Regions from separate parts of the Homo sapiens genome. Here region 2 is linked to region 1. The links come from fine-mapping of genetic effects on gene expression. A gene starts in region 1. The other region holds a variant in brackets. All regions are shown on one strand. Distances are between the middles of the regions. Region 1 holds the start of HTRA4 (HtrA serine peptidase 4). Region 2 has its middle 45 kb from the start of ADAM18.

What was found. PIP is the estimated chance that this variant, and not a neighbour inherited with it, causes the effect.
Region 2: its variant is the best candidate, but not a certain one, in a credible set for the expression of HTRA4 in aorta (GTEx, PIP 0.74).

The regions. Positions count from the first base shown.
Region 1 is chr8:38,973,103-38,976,016 of GRCh38, forward strand. It overlaps HTRA4 (HtrA serine peptidase 4), which reads left to right and starts at 1,126. Exons shown (of 9, transcript NM_153692.4): 1 at 1,126-1,627; 2 at 1,929-2,028. The coding sequence starts at 1,162. It overlaps PLEKHA2 (pleckstrin homology domain containing A2), which reads left to right. Exons shown (of 12, transcript NM_021623.2): 12 at 1-810. RefSeq lists a silencer at 1,293-1,522 and an enhancer at 1,703-1,762.
Region 2 is chr8:39,538,006-39,540,919 of GRCh38, forward strand. No RefSeq gene overlaps it. Among named protein-coding and RNA genes, the nearest start is that of ADAM18, 45 kb to the right of the region's middle. The variant T/C (reference allele first, on the strand shown) is at 1,623.

The sequences.
Region 1 (2,914 bases):
CCACCATCTATTACTTTTGAAATCTTCAAAAGACTTGCTTACTCAATGTCAGCTGATGGTTGGTAAAAATAATTTGGCCTTTAGTGTTAAGTGAGACATCATAAGGGTATTGAGGTATACATTATGGAGATTGATGTCAGGTCAGAATATTGGAGTTATACATCTATTTCTGAGTTGAATACTCAGCTCCCACGAGAAAGAAAGTAGTTTTAAGGTCCAGCTTCTTAGTCTACTTGAAGCAAATTTTTTTTCTTTTATATTTCTGAATATAAATATACTCTTATATGGGCTAAAAAGACCCCATGAATAAATAGCAGGTTCAGTAGTTGAGGAGTGGAGTTTAGTAGGTTTGTTTTCAGTATAAATTAGATAACATGTGGAGGTCACAGCATTTTGGAAATTGAGTGTCCCCAAGTGAGCTTTGTTTATAAACTTTCAAAATGTCGGAAGTGGACAGGTTTGTTAAATCTTGTCTGCCAGCACCCTTTTCTTCCTTTGTTCCTTTTCCTCTCTGTGTTATTGCCTGCGGCAGCCAGTCCTTCATACTAGATAGAGTTCAGATAAAGCAAACGTTTGGCAAAAACATACTGTTTGACCTCCTCCCCCTCTGCTTATGAAGGGGTAGCATGATTCTGTGTTTTAAAGCAGTGATGTTTCAGCTGTGAAATGCACTCGCTGTAAGCTCTAGGCTGAGTGCATGGAAACTGTTACGCTTCTCATTTTATGTGATCTCCTAATTGGTATGTAGCAAAAATTTTCTAAAACTGTTTTGTGGCTTGTTTTGTAATAAAACCATGTGAAATACTGAAATATGGTCATGTGTTTTCCTAATACTGACCTTCTGACCATGGGTGGGTGAGCTTTCTTATCAGTCTGCCCTCATTGTCGGTTTTAGGGATTTCAGGAGGTAGGTTCCTGCTCCGGGTAGGGCTAGAGACCTTCCCCTCATTGCCTGGGGGAGAACCTGGCTCCGGGGCGCCGACGGGGGCGGGTGGTAGGGGATGTACGGGTGTGTATATGCAGAGGTATGCCAGGCTCTGCCCCTTAAAGTTTGGGGGCCGGCGGAGGCGGCGCCGTGGCCGGGAGAAAGTGTCTCTCATTTAGGAGGGTTTGCAGGTCCAGAGTAAAGTCACTGAAGAGTGGAAGCGAGGAAGGAACAGGATGATTAGACCTCAGCTGCGGACCGCGGGGCTGGGACGATGCCTCCTGCCGGGGCTGCTGCTGCTCCTGGTGCCCGTCCTCTGGGCCGGGGCTGAAAAGCTACATACCCAGCCCTCCTGCCCCGCGGTCTGCCAGCCCACGCGCTGCCCCGCGCTGCCCACCTGCGCGCTGGGGACCACGCCGGTGTTCGACCTGTGCCGCTGTTGCCGCGTCTGCCCCGCGGCCGAGCGTGAAGTCTGCGGCGGGGCGCAGGGCCAACCGTGCGCCCCGGGGCTGCAGTGCCTCCAGCCGCTGCGCCCCGGGTTCCCCAGCACCTGCGGTTGCCCGACGCTGGGAGGGGCCGTGTGCGGCAGCGACAGGCGCACCTACCCCAGCATGTGCGCGCTCCGGGCCGAAAACCGCGCCGCGCGCCGCCTGGGCAAGGTCCCGGCCGTGCCTGTGCAGTGGGGGAACTGCGGGGATACAGGTGAGCCGCGGGGGCGCGCGCCCTCGGAACACTTTCTAACTCTGGAGGAGCGTAAAGGAACAAGACCTCACTGAGACCGCACAGTTCGCGCCTGGTCCTCCTGCGTCATTTGCCTCCTGGATTCGACACCTCTGTGTTCCTGATTTCCTTTCCTCCTTAACAGGGGCTCTTTACCGGCTGCTACGTGGTTTCTCCCTCCCCATGCACCTTTTGAACACTGTCTTGCCTTTAACATTTTTCCAACTAGGATAGCAGGTCTGGTTCCCTCGAGGCGTACTCTTGAGCCAGTATTTTTTCATAGGGACCAGAAGCGCAGGCCCGCTCAGGAGGAATTACAACTTCATCGCCGCGGTGGTGGAGAAGGTGGCGCCATCGGTGGTTCACGTGCAGCTGTGGGGCAGGTAAAGGAGGAGGAGGAAGACCTCCACTGTCCCAGCTAATGGTTTCTGCGTGCCTACCTGCTCCAGACCCTTCGCAAGCGTCATTTAATCCTAAAAAACCAGTGAGGAAACTGAGACGTAAAGAGGTTGAATAACCTGTTCAAGGTCATTTAACCAAAGAGCAGAGGCACAAGGATGCTGACTTCTAAATCCCAGCTCCCCCTGCCCACTTAGGTGGCTGGTGCTTTTTCCCCCTCCTGCCACAGACAAAATTTAAGGTCAGATATAAGAGCTAGTAGGCAATTTCTTTTCTTTTTTTGAGACAAGGTCTTGCTCTGTCGCCAGGGCTGAAATGCAGTGACAGATCACGGCTCACTGCAGCTCCATCTGCTGGGCTCAAGTAATCCTCCCAACCCAGCCTCTGGAGTAACTGGGACTATAGGCAGGTGCCACCATACCCAGCTAATATTTGTATTTTTTTGTAGAGACGAGGTCTTGTTATATTGCTCAGGCTGGTCTCGAACTCCTGGGCCCAAACGATCTGCCACCTTAGCCTCCCGACGTGCTGGGATTACGGGTGTAGCCACCACATCCAGCTTAGTAGGCATTTTGGTTGTGATCTTGCTCAGCCCCCACTTTGGATACAAGGAAATCCAGACCCAGAGAGCAGGGTTAATTTGTCCTATGTTACTATGTTACGAGGCCAGTTGGCGGTGGAAACTAAGCCAGAATCAGAGCCCTTTGATTCTCTCCTGCCTGGGTCCTTGATACTGTGGTAAGAGGCTGACTTTTGCCTCTAGTATTAGGATTGGGTTCAGTCTTTTCGCAGCAGAGAACCCATGGGCTGCTACACTAACCAGCTCTGAAGAAGCAGTGTCCCTGGAAAAGGAGAGCTGGACCCCACTCT
Region 2 (2,914 bases), 560 kb after region 1:
GACGGATCATATAATAGTTATATCATTAATTTTTGGGGAAATCACCATACTAATTCCATAGCAGTAGCACCATTTTATAATCCCATCAATAGTACGTAATTGTTCACATCTTATACACCACACTTTTATTCCTAGTTCATTTAATATTTTTATTACAAAAGTGTGTGAAATCTTATGAAATGTATTTTCTACAACAATTGAGATGATCACTAGGTTTTTGTCCTTCATTATGCTAAAATAGTGTATCAAATTGTTTTATTTGTATATGTTGAGCCATCATCGCATTCCAGGATTGAATCCCACTTGGTCATGATGCTTAATCCCTTTAACGTGCTACTGACTTCAATTTCGTATTATTTTGTTGGGGAGTTATGCATCAGTGGGTAATGGGGATATTGGGCTCTAGTTTTCTTTTCTTGTTGAGCCTTTGTCTGGCATTGCTATTAAGGTAATGCTGGCCTCATAGAATGAGTTGAGACGTATTTCCTTTTCTTAATTCTTTGAAAGAGTTTGAAAAGAATTGATGTTAAATCTTCTTTACATGTTTCGTAGAAATCTCCACTGTAGAAATCTTATCCTGGGATTTTCTTTATTCAGATTTTGGAATACTATGTCTATTTTTTTACTAGTTCTGTGTCTTTCAGATTTTCTATTTCTTCACGAGGCAATCTTGATAGTTTGTGTGTGTGTAGTAATTTCTACATTTCCTCTAGTTTATCCACTTTTTTGGCATATAGTTGTTCCTAGAATTGTCTTGTAAAATGTTTTTATTTCTGTGGCATCAGTTGTAATACCTCCTATTTCATTTCATATTTTAATTATTTGAGTATTTTCTCTTGTTTCTTAATCTAGCTAAGGGTTTGCCAATTTTGTTGATCTTTTCAAAAAAACAAAATCTTTGTTTCTTGATTTTTTTCTATTTGTTTTCTAGTTTTATTATATTTGTCCCTGCTTTAATCTTTACTATTTCTTTCTTCTGCTTGCTTGGGTTTAATTTAATTTTATTTTATTAGTTCCTTGAAATGTAACATTAGATTATCGATTTTAGATCTTTCTTCTTTTGTAACGTGTGTGTTTAGAGGTATTAACTTCCCTTCTAGTAATGTTTTCACTGGACCCCATAACTTTTGGTATACTGTGTTTTCATTTTAATTTGAGAGAGTATTTTCTACTTTTCCTTGTGATTTCTTTGACTCGCCAATCATATAAGATTGTCTTGTTTGATTTCTATGTATTTCTGGATATACAAGTTTTCCATCTCTCATTGATTTTTAGTTTCTTTTCATTGAAACTGTAAAATATATTTTGCATAATTTGAATATTTTTAAAATTGTTGAGACTTGTTTCATTGTCTAACAGACATGCTGTGCTGTAAATGTTCAATTGCTCTTGACAAGAACATGCATTCTAATGTTGAGTGCAATGTTCTGTAAATATCTGTAAGGTCTAATTGGTTTATACTGTTGTACAAGTTCATTATTTACTTACTCGTCTTCTATCTAGTTATTCTGTCTATTGTTGAAAGTGGAGTATTGAAGTATCCAACTACTATTGTGCTGCCATTGTTTCCTTCAATTATTTAAAAACAATTGCTTCCTATATTTAGAAGCTCTGATATTTGA[T/C]GTATAAGTACTTATAATTGTTATATCTTCTTGGTGAACTGACACTTTCGTCTGTAACTAGTGTCCTTTTTAGTCTCTTGTAACAGTTTTGGTTTACAGTATATTTTGTCTGATATTAATATAGCTATTTTGACTCTTCTCTGGCTACTATATGCATGAAATATGTTTTACAATCCTTTCCCTTTAGGCTAATGTGTGTCCTTGTATCTAAAGTGATTCTCCTGTAGAGAACATATACTTGGATCTTGTTTTTCATCTGATCAGCTAATCTGTTTTTGTAATGAGAGTTTATTCCATTTACATTTAAATGTATTACTGATAGGAAAGAACCTATCACTGCTATTTTATTGCTTTCTTTATACCTTGTAGATTTTTGGTTCTCTATTAGTGCCTCCCTCTGTGTTTTATTGATTGTTGTGTGTTATATGATTTCAATTCCTTCTCATTTTCTTCTGTATATAATCTCTAGACATTCTCTCTTTGTGGTTATCATTACAATTAGATGAAGTATCTTAATGTCATAACAGTCAATTTTAAACTTGTAACTTCAGTCAAATGCAAACCTCTATTATTTATAGATTCACTTCCATTTTATGTTATTGATATAACACATTATATCTTGACATGTTGTGTACCCATTATATAGATGTCCAGGAGAATTTTTTGTCTTTTAAATTCTATGAAAGAATTAAAAGTAAATTTGTGTCCCAAAATTATGACAATTTTATCACACTTTTACCTTTATCAGAGAACTTTATAATTTTTATATGGCTTTGTGTTGCTCTCTGTTTTCTTTTGTTTTCCAACTTAAAAGCCTCCTTTCTCTAACATTTCTCACACATAAGGTTAGCTGTCAATGAACTCCCTCAACTTTGCTTTATCTGGAAAATTCTTGTTTCTACTTTTACTTTAGGTTCAGGGGGTACATGTGTGGGTTTGCTGCATGGGTAAGTTGCATGTAACTTAGACTTGATGTACAAATTGGCCTATCACCAAACTGTGACTACAGTACCCAATATGTAGCCTTACAACCCACAGGCCCTTCCCACCCTTCCTCCTCAAGCATTTCCCAGAGTCTGTCTTTCCCATGTTTGTGTCCATGTGCATTCAATGTTCAGCTCCCACTTCTAAGGGAAAATGTGCATATTTGTTTTTCTGTTCCTACATTGGTCCATTTATGACAATGTCTTCCAGCTGTATCCATGGTGCTGTAAAAGACATTATTTCATTTTTTATGGCTATGTAGTATTTCATGGTGAATATGTACCACATTTTCTTTATCCAATCCACTA